Regions from separate parts of the Homo sapiens genome. Here region 1 is linked to region 2. A link means that fine-mapping ties the variant in region 2 to the expression of a gene that starts in the linked region. Tissue or cell type: pancreas. Region 2 holds a variant in brackets; the other region holds the start of a gene. All regions are shown on one strand. Distances are between the middles of the regions.

Region 1 (8,144 bases), 660 kb before region 2:
GGGACAACTGAGTTGTTGTTGTTATTTGTTTTTTCTTGGGACAGAGTCTCTGTCACCCAGGCTAGAATGCAGTGGCACTGTCATAGCTCACTGCATTCTTGACCTCCTGGGCTCAAGTAGTCCTCCCACCTCAGCATCCCAAGTAGCTGGGACTACAGGCATGCACCACCATGTCTGGCTAATTTTTAAATTTTTTGTAGAGACAAGGTCTTACTATGTTCAGCTCACTCTGGTCTCGAACTTTTAGGCTCAAGTGATCATCCTGCCTCAACCTCCCAAAGTGTTGGGATTACAGGCATGAGCCACTGTGTCCAGCCGGAAAACTGTTTTTACTGGTCTGGGGTTGGGCCCAGATACCCTTTTTAAAAATTAGTTTCACAGGTGTTTTAACATGATCAAGCTTCACCTCCTTATTTCAGGTAACAGCTAGAGAGGGAAATGGAGAGCCCCTTTCTATAGAGGGAATAGCAAGATGGTTAACGTTCATCATTTGTTTAGCGTAGCAGGAGGCTACACACCCAGGCCTGAAGCAAAACTGTAACTTGACTTGTGACCTGGAACAACTGAATTAGTTTCTCCAAGTCTCAGCTTCCTCATCTGTGAAATGGAGGAAATGATGTACCTTCCACATAGGTCTGCTATAAGATGTAAATAAGAAAATGGAGGCTGGGCGCAGTGGCTTGTGCCTGTAATCCCAGCACTTTGGGAGGCCGAGGTGGGTGAATCACTTGAGGCCAGGAGTTCAAGATCAGCCTGGCCTACACAGCAAAACCCTGTCTCTACTAAAATTACAAAAACTAGCCAGGCGTGGTGGCGCACGCCTATAATCCCATCTACTCGGGCGGCTGAGGTACGAGAATTGCTTGAACCCAGGAGGTGAATGTTGCAGTGAGCCGAGATCACGCCATTGCAATCCAGCCTGGGCGACAGAGCAAGACTCTGTCTCAAAAAGGAAAAGACAATGCAGGAGAGGTGCTCAGCACAATGCTTAGCATACAGTAAACACTGAGATATGCTTGCTATTGCCATCACTTATCCTTCATTCAAAAGTATTTATTAAATACTGGGTACTACATATTGTGGTGCACCAACAAGATACAGTTCTTTCCCCTGAAGTTTCTTGTCAAGGAATCAAGACAAAGCAGAAACAACAGTGGTGCAGTCAGTGCTATAGTTACATTTACTGTCAGAAGGGGTCAAGGAAAGCTTTCCAGAGGAGTGAAGGTGCAGAGCTGAGCCTGGAAAGATGGTTTGAAACAGAACAGTTAATGCAGGGGTGGTGGCAGTGTTATAAAAGAAACAAAACAGGAATTTGCTGGGAGAAGTAGATCTAATGTTTCCTTTTAACTGCATTTTGATCTCTTTCTTCTGTCATTGGATACTTGGTTTCGTTCATCCCTAGGCCACCACATAAAAAAGCTTGGCATTGAGGAATTATTAACCCATTTGAATGCCCACTGTGTGTGAGGCACGGTAGCAACACAAAAGATATATACCATGCCTACCAAGTTCAGAATGCAGGCAGTGCACATGATGTCATCAAGAACATCTGCAACTCGTGAACAAATAAAATAACTGATAGTTCTAGACTTTATGGACACCCTGTAGAGAAGTAGAGGACAAAGACCCTACTACCAAAAATGTGCATCAGATTGAGAAGGCAAATTTGCAATAACTCATGCCTAGTCTATTTTAACAGCTGGACAAGTATCAAGCCCAGCAAGCCCTGGCCAGGTCCAAAGGACAGGCATGCTGGGAGCCAGGGCAGGAAGAACAGGCTTCATGGAGGAAGTAGACCTTAACCTGGGCCTCAAAGGGAAAGTATTATTAAATACGTCAGGATGAAGGACATCACTTCGGGCAGAGCAGCTTCAAGCACAAAGACTAGAAAGCAGGGATTTGGAAGGTGTTCTGGAGAATGAACAACTCCATGGGCTAGAAATATGAGTTACAGAGGTGAAAAGTGGAAATGGGTAGTAGAGAGCTCAGGGCCCAATTAGGGGGTGGTGGTGGTGATGGTGAGGAGGTGAAGTTAATATTTACTTATATAGGAACGGGGAATCTATTAAAGGTTTTTGAGCAAGGGAGAGGTATGTGTAAAGTGATTGTATATTGCAAGATTAATGTGGTTTGGAACATATTAAATTAACAGCAGGGTATCTTGATAGAATTGTGCAGGGACCATTCAGAATGTATTAGTGGAAGTCAGGAGTGAGGTTAAGGGTATATATTCTGGAGTTGGGAGTCACCAGGATCCGGGATGGAAGTAATAGTAAATGAGGGCTGTGAGAGACAGTAAAGATAAAAAGCCTGTGGTTTACAATTAGGGGATGGTAAAAATATTGGAGGATTAGAAGGGAGGAAGAATCTGAGTCAACAAAGACGAAAGGACTGCTACAGAGGAAGGAGAAAAACCAAGCCAATGGTAGACCAAGAGCAAGGTGATTAGAGGATCAAGTGCTGCAGAAACTCTAGGGGAATGATGGATTTAAAAATAAGTAATTTGATTTGTATACATAAGCAAGAAAAACTATTAATATATAGCTTTTTTTGAAAAATAACGGCACCAAAATCCACATTTATTTTTATTACCTTTGGTGAACAAAACATACGACAATAGATTCTGGAGGGTGGGACGTTAAAGGAAGACATTTTAAGAATCAAAGAGTCTTAGCTGTGTTTATTGGGGTAGAGCCCTTGGGTGCAGAAACATTTAGGGATTCGGGAGAAAAAAGGGATGATGTTTGAAGGAGGCAGGAGGGAAGTGGACGGTGTCAGGAGGTTCAGCTCCTCCCCTGGAATGGGGAACCCTGAAGATTTGAAATGGATGTGGGAGCTCCAGACAGATGGCTTCCATGTTCCAAGTAAAGTACAACTTGAAGTACGACGTGATGGTGTTTGACATTTAACAGATGTCATCTGTTCTCTGCAGAGTCACTCAGCAGCCTCCCCTGTTGCAGACACCTCCTTAGGTTTGGAACACACTGTCTATACAGGGCCTAAGTGCAGGATTTTGGTGTGTTCCTTATTTCATTTATTTTTGTTTAACTTGTGGCAGATAAATACAGGTTATCAAAAGAATGGGACAATGAGTAAGCACACACCAAACTAAACAAAACAAAACAAATAGAAACATCACAAGTCTTGAATTTTTTTTTTTTTTTTTTTTTTTTTTTTTTTTTTTTTGGTCAAAGAAAGAACTCATTGGTTGATTTAAGTCGGTGGTAAATCAGAAAGTTGAAAATAAATCACCCTCCTTCTCCAGGGTTCTTCCGGATAGTTCAACTCTAAATTCAGCTGAGAGTATTTCTGATGCTCAAAGAAAAGTGTCTTAAACTCTGATGTTTTAATGTAGTTAAAAAAAACACAAAAAATCTTTGCTGAGGCCCAAGCTGAGGTCAAAAACTACCTCTAGCCATCTGGTGCTTTATTTTTATTGATTAGAAGTCTCTGATAAGACTGATTTGAATGTGATTTAGGAATATCACATTCTAAATGGTCAGTTTGCCTATTCCATTATAGAAATGACACTACGGGAAAATTCATCATCACAGACCACAGCAGAAGTGTTCTTTAGTTAAAGCTCTACCTAGTCATCCAGAAAGCCAGTAAGTAAACCAAATAAAAATAGTTCACTGGGCTCAGAGTGGCAAGTTTTGCATGCAAAGATCGTGAAAATTGTAACCCTAACAATAAATCCAATACTGTTCTCGACTCTCTTGTGTGTCCAGTGCTGCTGCAGTCCTTGGAAGGCTTTTAAACTGTTCAGAGCTTGCTGGTTATCTTCAGCCAAGCCAGAGAGTGGGAGTGCAGTGCATTTTAGTGTAACCATGCGGAACTGGTCGCTCCTTGATTTTGTGCCGTATGTTTCCATTTGTGTAGGCTTTTTCCCCCCTCAGTATTTTGTTGCTTATCCTTTAGAGCGAAATTGGTTTTTCCTCGGCCAATAATCTGTTTCTTTAAAAAAAGAAAAATTCGTTACCTATTGCCTTTTTTTCTGGTCTTCCTGAGCAAGCCAGAAGTCACAAGGTCGTTTACTAAACGGAAACTAAGAAAAAGAAAAGCCACATCAGCCGGCACAAGCCTCTCTAACTTGTGTGCCCTGAGGCTCATCAGATGCGAAGTCCTGGCGACAAGATAGGGTCGCCCGCAGTGGCTTCCTAAAGCGCAGATCCAGGCCGGCTCCCAGCGTGGAATCCGACCCATGTACTTCGCCTCTCCACGTGGCATCAGATGCTCTGCCGGCTGTCACCGTGAACTCCAGCCCTCGCGGAGCCGACACTGACCTGGCTACTTCAGAGTTCGGAGGGAAATAGCGTCTCCGTACCCTCGCCCCACCTGGGCTGCTCCTCGGACCGCCGCTCGTCCCAGACTCCAGGAGGCGCCACCAGGCCTCGCTGACCCCGCTCCATATCTCCGGGAGCCCTCAGCTGGTCGGCCGCGGCGACCGGAAGCTCCGGACTGAGGTACTGGTTCCGCCCGCCGCTCTTCCAGCCGAGACTCGGCAGCGGCGGTCGGAGCGGCTGCCACGCCGCACCTGCCCGCGAGGGGGCGCGCCAGGCCCAGGCCGCAGCCGACTGCCGCGCTCTCTGTCCCCGCCCTCCGCCATCCCCGGACTGCGCTCACCTGTCTGGGCCGCTGGCCTGGGAGGCGGGGGCCGGCGGGAGCCAAGCCGAGGAAAGGGCGGAGCGGCTCTCCGGGCGCGTCATCGGAGCACCATGGCGGAGCTAGGAGCTGGCGGCGACGGCCACAGGGGCGGCGACGGCGCAGTGCGAAGCGAAACAGGTGACCGCACAGCGGGGATAGTGGGGGTCCCGTCGGGCAGGGGACGGCGAGCGGGGCCGGCGGGCTGGCACCGAAATCACCCGGCGCCGGCAGCCCCCTCCCCGCCCGCGCGGCCGCGGCCCGGAACAACCGGCCCTGCGCGCCGCGCACCCTGCTCCGAGAGCGCCTTCCCCCGCCCTTCGCCGCCGCGGCTCGGCCAGCCCGGCTCGGCCCCGGCCGGGGTTGCGGCCGCCCTCGGGCGCTCCACCGCGACTTTCCCGCAACAGGTGGAGGCGAGCCGGGGGAGGAAACGGAGAGACCCCGGCCGCTGCCCTCCCCGCCGCGGCCTCGGGTCTAATTCAGTTGAATGGGAAATCGTATCCCCCAGACCAAACCAGTGGCCAGAGAGTCGTCGGCCAGGTGCGACTGGCAGGACGAGCAGTTTCTGGGCACCTCCTCCCGCCTTCCCTGGTCGCCCCGGGTGCCGGGGGCTCCTCAGCGGGGTCGGTGTGGGGCAGGACCGCGGGGTGAGCGGCCCGCCCCCCAATCTGGTGCCCGCAGTGGCGACGACCGTCGTCCGAGGGGACCGAGCTCGGGAGGGCCGGGGCCCAGTGCAGCACGGTGGGGGTTTGCGAGTGCGGGCTTGACGGGATCAGACTTTCGTTGACTTGTCGGAGTTCTCAGAGTTTTTTGTTTTTAGTCTGTGCAGGAGCCCAAAGGAGGATTGTTGGCTCTGCAGCCCGGGATTTGGTGGTCAGGCCTCTGTGTTGAGGATACCCCTCCCCCACAACCTCCAGGGGCACACTTAGGGACAGGGGATCACGTCCCCAAGACCAGCAGCAAGGCTTCCCAAGACCAGCAGCAAGGCTTCCCAACCCCGCCCATCTCTCCATAGTATGAAGCCGATTTTTCTCCCTCGTGATTTTTTTTTCTCCAGAGGCTATCTTGCAAATCCGTCCCTCTCCACTGGTTCCCTCTTCTATTCTTGGCCAGTAAGCTGTTTCTATATCTTCCTACACTTGGGGATGGGGGCAGTGAGGCAGTTTCTTACTTTAAAAAGAAATTCAATTCTTAGACTCTCCAATTGCAAGCTGTTTTCCACTTCCATACGGTCACAATCGGAAGCATTTGTTTCCTAAATGTAAGAATCACTGTCTCCCCACCATCAAGTATGCTTATTTTAACGTGAAAGGTCCAGAGAGCTCTGAAACAGTATTTGCAAATTATGTATCTGCTATTGCTAGGAAGAGGTTGGGTACGTAAAGTCTAATGATTTAATCCCTTCAGCCAAGATACCTGAGGTTAAGACTGACAAAGTATCTTGAACTTGTTTAAGTCATGCTCCTTCCTGTAGGGAGTTTGTCTTAATGTGTTCGCAAGATTGGTAGATCATTATTTTGTTTTGGGGTGGAGAAGAGATGCCTTTGTAATTGCTTTCGGGAATTTGATGAGCTAGACGCTGGGACGGGGCTCCCCCAAGTGAGGGCCCCGGGAGAGGAGCATCCTCATTTGTAAATATACGGCATGATTTTCGTTCCTAACCCTGACCCAGTAACTGCATGTGAAACAACATTGTTCTAGCGAGCTAAGTGTTAGTTTGTGCTCAAAAATAAACTTTCTAGAATCTGCACGTGAACAACTTGTTCAGACATAAGTGAACTGACTACAAACTGTAGGATATTCAGTGCCTGAGCATGTTAAGGAATAGGCCGTGCTTCCAACAATTAATATACAAATCAACCATGTGCCTGTCAGTGTAATATTTTCTTTTATTAAAAAGGGAGTTAAATTGGCTGTTATCTCCTTCATAGAAAACATTTCTTCCACACTTTTGCCTAAAAACTTCATTTTCCAAAGGACATTTTTTATATATGGTCTTGAATAATTATACTTTATAATTTCACTGAAAACTTAATTCTGGCCCCGCATCTCTTTCCTATTTTTCTACCCCAAGATTACTATTAATGTTTTTAGTGTTCAGAAGCATTTGTGTCAGCAGGTGCCAAAGAAAGAAGGAAGGTGTAAATGTATTTTTTTGAATCTAGGTGGTAGTTATTTTGAGAGAACAAGTGAGATTGTTTGAATTTCAACAACTTAAGTTATTCCATATATTTAAAACACATGACCTATATCTGAATATGAGACTTTAATTTAGCACTTCATTCTGGTGAACATATTTCACATTATACACATCCAAATACTGCAAGTCTCATTTTTTTAAACAATCAGAAGTTTGTATGGAATTGTTGGGGGGGTGGGGGGGGGTGGTGGTGGTGGGTGGCCGTGGACAGAGAAACTATTACCATCAAGAGTTGAAAATTGCCACCTTAAATGGCAACATTTCTTGAGGGATTAATTTTATTTCTTTTTAGAACTCATTATTATGAGGTAGAGTCCACTCTTAAATAACTCTTAGTTTTTGGGTCTCTATACAAAGACTGGTCTAATTTTAGGGCACTTTAGATGAGAATATCAGGTTATTATAAAAATGATACCTGTAATGTGTTCAGAATTATATGTGTGAGTGTGTGTGTGTGTATATGTGTATCAAAGATGAATTGACAGTGGTGGCGTGTGGCCTATGAAATGAGACCGTTCTTAAGCATATTGAAAGCTATTATATAAACCCAACATTTAAAAACCCTATTTCTGTGGGTATATATTCTCAAAGTTAGTCAAATCACATTCTTTGTGGCGAAAACATTTATTTTTCTTGAGGATGAAAAGTTCTTCCAATATAATATTTTTCTTGCCAACAGCCAAAGTTAAGAGCTGGGAAAAAAAAAATTGCCTTGGAAACAAGTTTAAGACATCACCACTAGAGGATGTCAAGTCCTTTTTCAGCCTTTTTTGAGTAGTCGACCTACGATGGGTGATATTCACAAAACTGCCTCTACCCAAGCTTTGTATATTTAATTTTATGTTCATGTTCAAGAGCTGTGGAAAGCGAGTGTACAGCACTAATTTCCTAGTCTGATAGCCTGTTTTAAAAACCTCCTGAACTAAAAGCAAATTTAAAGCTGCTTTTGATTAATTCATGAAGCTTTCATGCACGAAGGAATAAGTTAATGCCAATAACCTGTCAATTCTGTTGATATTTTGGGAAGTGGGTCATGACTTAGAATCTGGAATTGGGCTTTTTGTCCATTTTAGCAACCTGTGTGGTGAACATGGCCTCTTTCGTGACCATCCTTTCATGAACTTTTCCAAATCAAAAAGTGATCTTGTAGGTGTCACTTAACTCTAAGGGTCCACATTAAATATCTGCAATTAAATAAGGGCTCAGACGTCAATTTGGTATTAAGCTTGTCCCCTTTGAAAGAGATGCTTCATTCACATAGCTAGATAGCTTTTCTCCCATCCTATATGGCTGTTACCTT
Region 2 (8,000 bases):
TATCTTAAACCCTTTTTAGCACATTTAATATAAAGGCATTTGATCAAATTATCCAATATTTAAAATTGAAATATGATTCTTTCTGTGAGAAAAATTTCCTTAAAGAAAACTCTAAAATTAATTTTTAGTTTTTGCAGGCGAGATTGAAATTTTATTTCACGGAGTAGAAATTATGATTGAACCCACCTGGGTAAACATGTTCCCATATTTAGTGGGACCCGTCTCGTACTGATGTGTCCAGATGTTTCATTTTCAATTTAAATAACATGTTCAAGATGTACTGTACATTTCAACGTAGCTGGGTGGAAAGTTAAACATCAGCCACGCAACCCCTTTGGACAGGTTAATTGTGCAGAGCTCATTGGAATAATGCAATTTGGCATGTGTGCCTTGGATGGAGAGAATGTGGGAGGCTATTGTCCTTGGGGTCTCCTCTCTCCTTTTGTCTCCATTTGCCTCATGTTTCTGTCTTAGAACAGAACGCTCTTGTTTCCTTGGAGTCCTTACCCCAAATCACCTATTAAGAAAAATAGGAACAGGTTATAATTCTTGTTATTATGGCTTTCCTGAGACGGAAAAGTGTTTGGCTAATTTCCCCACTCCTTGGAATTCTCCTTATTTGAATTCACTTGAAGGCGGGAGTTAAAGTATCTTTCACGTAGGTTTTTAAATATACATTTAAATTCACTCTATAGTTCTTAACATTTACAAAACAGTGTCAATTAAAAGAAAAATAATATAAAATGCTATGTTTGAGATAGAATCACATAATAAACTAGGAACTAGTTTAAAACGTCTAATAAATAAGCCTTCCCAAACTCTATTTGGTACAGAAATAAAGCATATAGATGTGGTTAACATTTTAACCTAGAAACATTTAAAAATACCAAGATGATTTTGGGAATAAAACTTTTATGGTAGGTTTTGTTACTGATATTTTAGTAATTTCCTTAACTGGCATCACCTATCACCTTAGTGGCCTATTCAATTAATTTTTGGAAGTGGGTGGAATATAAATTATGCATGAATATATAAACGGATCAAGTTTTTAACTGGAATAAATGCTTTTGGTGACAGGTTAAAAGATCTACTTTAAATCAGCTTATAATATCTATTTTTAAAAGACTTCAAAACTTGAAATTAAATGTTCTCTTTTCACTTCAATGACGATGGTGTAATTATTCTTGGGATTAAGAAGATATTGTCATTATTAATTTCTATATAAGTGATTATCAATTCAGAGAGTCTACAATTAGATACCTGCTATGTGCTTATCATAGCAGGAGACACAGGATGATTAAGAAAGGCTCCTTTATAGCAGCATGATTTATAGTCCTTTGGGTATATACCCAGTAATGGGATGGCTGGGTCAAATGGTATTTCTAGTTCTAGATCCCTGAGGAATCACCACACTGACTTCCACAATGGTTGAACTAGTTTACAGTCCCACCAACAGTGTAAAAGTGTTCCTATTTCTCCACATCCTCTCCAGCACCTGCTATTCACAATAGCAAAGACTTGGAACCAACCCAAGTGTCCAACAATGATAGACTGGATTAAGAAAATGTGGCACATATACACCATGGAATACTATGCAGCCATAAAAAATGATGAGTTCATGTCCTTTGTAGGGACATGGATGAAGCTGGAAACCATCATTCTCAGCAAACTATCTCAAGGAACAAAAAACAAACACCGCATGTTCTCATTCATAGGTGGGAATCGAACAATGAGAACACATGGACACAGGAAGGGGAACATCACACACTGGGGCCTGTTGTGGGGTGGGGGGAGGGGGGAGGGACAGCATTAGGAAATATACCTAATGTTAAATGACGAGTTAATGGGTGCAGCACACCAACATGGCACATGTATACATATGTAACAAACCTGCACGTTGTGCACATGTACCCTAGAACTTAAAGTATAATTAAAAAAAAGAGGCTCCTATCCCTATAGGTATTTACAATTTGGTAGAAATCTAAAAGAAGACAGAACAAGAAAAGTGCACAAATGAGCTCTAAAATCAATGCCATGTGGATTCAAAAAGAGGCAAGATTATGGGTAGAAGAGAATAAGGAAGACTTTCTGGAGCATAAGTTCAACAGTGAACATGGAAACAAAGCATATGTCTCATTTATACAGCTTCAGCTTGGTCCATTGCAAATACACTGTAAATAAGGCATAGGCATCTTTACTAAAGATACTGAGAAATATTCAACTTATTGTAATTCCTATGAAGATGGCTAGCTGAACATTTCAAATCGTCTCTTCTATATATGAGCTTCGATGCTGACCCATAATAAGTAACAACTCATGTTAGATGTCAATCAATTTTAGCATTCTTTCTTATTTCCAGTTATCAGCAAATGGTATTTGAATAATATAGAAGAGGTGAGCTATTATAATATATTCCTATTACCCGATACTATGTATGTACTGATGGAAGTAATTATTTAATGACTAGAACTGCTTCATTTCCTTTCATATGCTTCACTAGAAAGTATAGGAAATATCTCCTCAGAATAGAACTCAGATTATAGGACCTTAGAAATCATATGGTCATATGGATCAAATAACTTTTTGATGCATTAGCTATAAAAATAATGCATTATGCTAGTACTGTGAGTCAAGATTTATTAATAATGCCACTTGGGAAGGTACTTGAAGTCACAGGATCAACTGTATCTGCTTGTTTTGTTAGTCTGGATTAGTTGATTCTCACGTTTCTGAAAGCCGATATAATTAAGCTGCTCTCAGCAAGTCTAGGATAAGCCAAAGATATATTTCATAGAAGCCCAAAGAAAGAGGGCAGGAATATAAAGTCATGAGACTTATTTCTACAAATACCACTCAAAAGCCCCTGAAAGTGACTCATATTTAACTTCCAAAATTCAGTGTGTTCACTCAATAAGCATTTGAGAACTCACTGGGTACATAGTAAACAATAATATCAGAAAAGAGGAAAATCAATTCAAATCCATATGGATATAATTAAATTCCTAGTATTCATTTTTTTAATTCAATTTCTTGGGTACCAACTATAGACCATGTGCTCTTCTAGCTGTGGACTGGAGTGGGAGGGGTGGGCAGGAGTAATTATGATAATAAACAAAACTAGCATGCTCTCTTCCTTCCTCAAGCTTACAGTCCAGCTATGCTACAGACAGCAGAGGACACAAGGTAAATATGACAGAATCCTTTCAAAAGAGTTTGCAATCTACTGGAAAGGTAGTAGATACATAATGACAAGGTAGAACATGCTTTCTCTTCTTAACCAGAATTATCATCAAAATCACTTGGAAGGCTTTTTCAAAATTCATATGCCTAGGTTTCATTCCACACCCAAATGAATGAAAA[T/C]GGCTGGCAGTGGAGCCTGAGAATGCACATTTTGAAACACTGTGTTCAGATGATTCTGGCGTGGACCACTGGTTAGGAGCTCCGCGTTTAGAAGGTGTTTGAATTTCTCACCTCAGTTTTGCTCTGACTTCATTATAATGCATCCATAATTTTCCCAATGCTCCTGAAGGTTGCCTTGTTTTCCCAAGGATTATTAATGAGACCTGTGGATGGAATTCTTAACAGATGGTAGGGAGAGATGAAACTATCTTGCCATTTCAACATCTGGCAAATACATTCTTCCTTTAGCCCTAATGATCTATGATTTTATATGCAGTCATCAACACAAAGATTTTCATTTTAATGAGTCTCACTCTTTCAGATTCTTTTTCTAATCATTTTTGTTACTCTTTGGGTTCTCATCTTGAAAATAAATGTATGGCTTCTGCTTTGAAGCCTAATTTTCCAAACAGAACAATATTATAGTTCAGATCTTGTCAGAAATATTAAAGTATGTCTCTGCTCTTTGGCTTATGCCGAGGGAAAAATCTATTGCGCCTGTAAATGCAGCCTCACTTGAAGAATGTGTCCCTTTAAAGCTGAGGCATGTTTAAGATGCGTATGTAATTCAGACCTGTTTGCAGCAGAAACCCTTTTAATCCTAAGAAGCATGTTAAACAAGAGCTTTTTTGGCACATGGCTTATGGATGCAGGAAAAGAAAATATGCCTTTCTTTTATACAGTTAACTGTTCGAAAATAACACGTGAATAAACACTTCAACTTTTAGTAGTTTCTTGAAGATGGGGATACTCATGGGTAGAGCAGCCTCGGTAGAAAAAAAACAACTCTAATATCAGAGTCCTATATGGACCATGCTCGTTTTCCCATTAGCAGTTTCTGCATTTCCTCCCCGGACCTCGAAGAGTATCTTTTTGCTTTCCTAAACTTAGTGCAACTTGCCTTGCATCAACAAAATAGGTGAGTTTATAGTGACTGCCTCTTTTGATCTCTTGCCACATTCTTCTCCTTCTCCTCATTTTGGTGGATATATAATGATCTCAGGGAAGATGGTGCAGACTCCTTGGAGAGTTTATGATGTATTCTCAAAAATGCCAGTCATACCCACTGCGTGCTGGGTTACCATCACAGTCAAGCTGCACCTTTGAAGCTGTGCACATATTCCTTATGTTTTATCTCCAGTAGGACAAATGCTGCCAAACATGAATGATTTACATTCACCGGAGTGAAACAAATCAATAGCAGCACTCTGGTCCGCAACTTTGACCAGTTTGAACGCACAAACAATCTGCATGTGGCTCTAAGTACCATAGGAAATATCTAGAACCTGTCTGATAAACTTACGGTGTTAAAACAATCAGAGAGTAAAGAATAATTTTGTAAGGAAATTCTTCGCTTGTCCACCATATCCCAACATTATGTTTCTTCAGAAATCTCTAATAATGGAAATTCATTTTTTAAAATGTTATTGTTTTATCAGTTTGTAAATTATTGTGAATCATGTATCATACGAAGTAGAAAATAATTATATACATCAAACAATTGGTACACTCATGTCCCTGCCCAATTCACACACTGAGACTGATATAAAAAGTAGCACCATCTGGGTGTGGTGGCTCATGCCTGTAATCCCAGTACTTTGGGAGGCTGAGGTGGGCGGATAACCTGAGGTCAGGAGTTCGAGACCAGCCTGATCAACATGGTGAAACCCCGTCTCTACTAAAAATACAAAAATTAGCTGGGCGTGGTGGTGGGTGCCTGTAATCCCAACTACTCAGGAGTCTGAGGCAGGAGAATCGCTTGAACCCAGGAGGCAGAGGTTGCAGTGAGCTGAGATCGCGTCATTTGCACTCCCGGGTGACAGAGTGAGACTCCATCTCAAAAAAAAAAAAAAAAAAAAAAATGGTAGCACCGTCTGGGTGCGGTGGCTCACGTTTGTAATCCCAGCACTTTGGGAGGCTGAGGTGGGCGGATAACCTGAGGTCAGGAGTTCGAGACCAGCCTGACCAACAAGGCAAAACCCCGTCTCTACTAAAAATACAAAAATTAGCTGGGCCTGGTGGTGGGCGCCTGTAATCCCAACTACTCAGGAGGCTGAGGCAGGAGAATCACTTGAACCCAGGAGGTGGAGGTTACAGTGAGCCGAGATTGCGTCATTGCACTCCTGGATGACAGAGTGAGACTCCATCTCAAAAAAAAAAAAAAAAAAAAAATTGGTAGCACCATTCGGGTGCGGTGGCTCACACCTGTAATCCCAGCACTTTGGGAGGCCAAGGCAGGCGGATCACTTGAGGTCAGAAGCCTGGGTGACGGAGTAAGACTCTGTCAAAAAAAAAAAAATTGTTCAGCTGGAGACAGCTGGACATGGTGGATCTAGAGAGCCAGGGTCTTCCCAGGTCAGGTTGAAGGTGGTTCAGTGAGAGCCTGAGTCACATTAGACCTATACTCTAACATAGGCCTGGGGTATCTGTTGGTGGGTCATTGTATTCAAACCTCAGGATTCCTTTAGAATTTAAGAGAATTTAAAGATGTCCTCAAGAATCTATTAACTGGGCATGACCCCTGGAAGATCAACCTGCTGAGTAAAAGATTCCATTTATATTATTAGGCAAACTTTAGAACTGAATTTCTGCTCAAAACTGAAGTTAGGGATGAATCACTGGGAAAATCATCTAGACTAGATATTTAGTAAAATTCACTTGTAACTTATAGAAATCACACAACTTTAGATGTATTTATAGTATTTCTTATTGTTTTATTTCTGCTTGTTTTCCTTAAGGGCATGTGCTTGTGGTAGATTATATTAATCACATTTATCTTCTGGACACCAGAATTATATAATTAGAAAAAATATTTATAAACACAGAAAACCAAAACTACTACACCTACTGTTGACATTAGTTGTTCTTCTTGGATCTATATTTCTAAATAGTCCAGAACAGTGATGTTTATTTTATACCTATAATATTTATTTTTTATACTACTTATTTTTTATAATATTTATTTTTTAAACTAGTACACCTACTGTCGACATTAGTTGTTCTTCTTGGATCTATATTTCTAAATAGTCCAGAACAGTGATGTTTATTTTATACCTATATTTTATACCTATAATAAGTATAAATAAAATAACAAGAACCTATTCTAAGGTGTTATACATGCACACCTATTTAAGGTGTTATACATGCACACACACACACACGTGTGTATTTCAGCTTTATTGGAGCTCAGAAATGTCAGTTACTTTATCTGAGGTCCCAAAGATAATTATCCAGTAGCATAGCTCTAAGTCCTTGGAAGCAGCAGAACATAATGGTTAGGTACCTAGATTTGCCGTTAGATCTGGGTTCAATAACTAACTGAAGGTCACACTAATTGTGTGACCTTGAGCAGGTTACTTAGTCCTCTTTTTTACTAAGTAGTCCTCTTCTTGTAAAGAGGTTACTCAGTGTCTGTAAGCCTCAGTTTATAAAAGTCTTTAAAACGAAACTCACTGAGGTCATAGAGGTATCATAGCAATTACGTGGGATAATATAGGCAAAAGCACTCAATGCAGTAGTTCACAGGTAGTAAGAATTTGTTAAATGCCAATAGTACTATAGTTGGAGAGAATTAAGAGATGACATAGCAAGATGAAAGATGATGTAAATAATCACAAATATATGTCCAGGGAAATAGTAAGCGCAGTAGAACAAAGAATTGGGGAGTAGTAGGGAGTAAACTGTCAAAAGGTAAATCATGATTGGATTACAGGGGAATCTAAACATTGGGCTGAAAGATTGAGGTGGCTGCTAGAAACAATGAGAATTCATTCAGAAAAGGTCACATGAGATTTATTTTTTGTTTAAAGGTTTAGATTTGACAACACCAAGGTAACTGCCACAAATTATGCTTATTTAGACCAACTAAGTAAACTTGCTCCAAATGTAGATAATTGAGAGGGTGTAGATTTGCATAGCCAATTAAGCCTTTTCAATAAAATAAAGCCCCTAATTAATATATTCTCTGTAAATACTGGGTAACTACTAAGGACAAATCTTTGCTTAATAATTTTGAAAGCAGAATACAGTACACAACATTTAAATAAATATCAAACTTAAGTGTATATTTAGTATCTTTGTCAATATTGGGTTCACCATCATTACTTAGTCTAACTGATACGTTCACTTTTCTGATTTAAGCAGATCCTTTCATATTCTCTTAATTATTTTTCTGGTAGGGTTACAGGTTAGGGAAAATTATTTTAAGTCTGTACAGTTAATCTGCAGAGCAATTATAAAGTACTGAAAGCAAGACTCATTGTTATATCTCCAGCCTCTAACAAAAGGTCTTGCACAGTATAAATGCTCAGCAAATCTTTGCAAATATTAACTATGGATTCAACAAAGGACTAGTATCCAGAAGCCACAGGAACTCAAACAAATCAGCAAGAAGAAAAACAAATAATCCCATCAAAAAGTGGGCAAAGGACATGAATAGGCATTTCTCAACAGATTTACGAACAGCCAACAAACATATGAAAAAATGCTCATCATCACTGATCATCAGGGAAATGCAAATGAAAACCACAATGAGATACCACCTTACTCCTGCAAGAAGACTATTATTAAAAAGACAAAAAACAACAGATGTTGGTGTGATG

The links. PIP is the estimated chance that this variant, and not a neighbour inherited with it, causes the effect.
Region 1: MAP7 starts here. The variant in region 2 is fine-mapped to the expression of MAP7 in pancreas (GTEx, PIP above 0.99).

The regions. Positions count from the first base shown.
Region 1 is chr6:136,546,983-136,555,126 of GRCh38, reverse strand. MAP7 (microtubule associated protein 7) reads left to right here and starts at 4,705. Exons shown (of 18, transcript NM_003980.6): 1 at 4,705-4,785. The coding sequence starts at 4,719. MAP7-AS1 (MAP7 antisense RNA 1) reads left to right here and starts at 2,622. Exons shown (of 1, transcript NR_186370.1): 1 at 2,622-4,404. RefSeq lists silencers at 4,404-4,753, 4,794-4,973, 4,984-5,033 and enhancers at 4,255-4,792, 5,331-5,869.
Region 2 is chr6:135,887,012-135,895,011 of GRCh38, reverse strand. All of the region lies in intron 1 of PDE7B (phosphodiesterase 7B), which reads right to left. Among named protein-coding and RNA genes, the nearest start is that of PDE7B, 39 kb to the right of the region's middle. The variant T/C (reference allele first, on the strand shown) is at 3,361.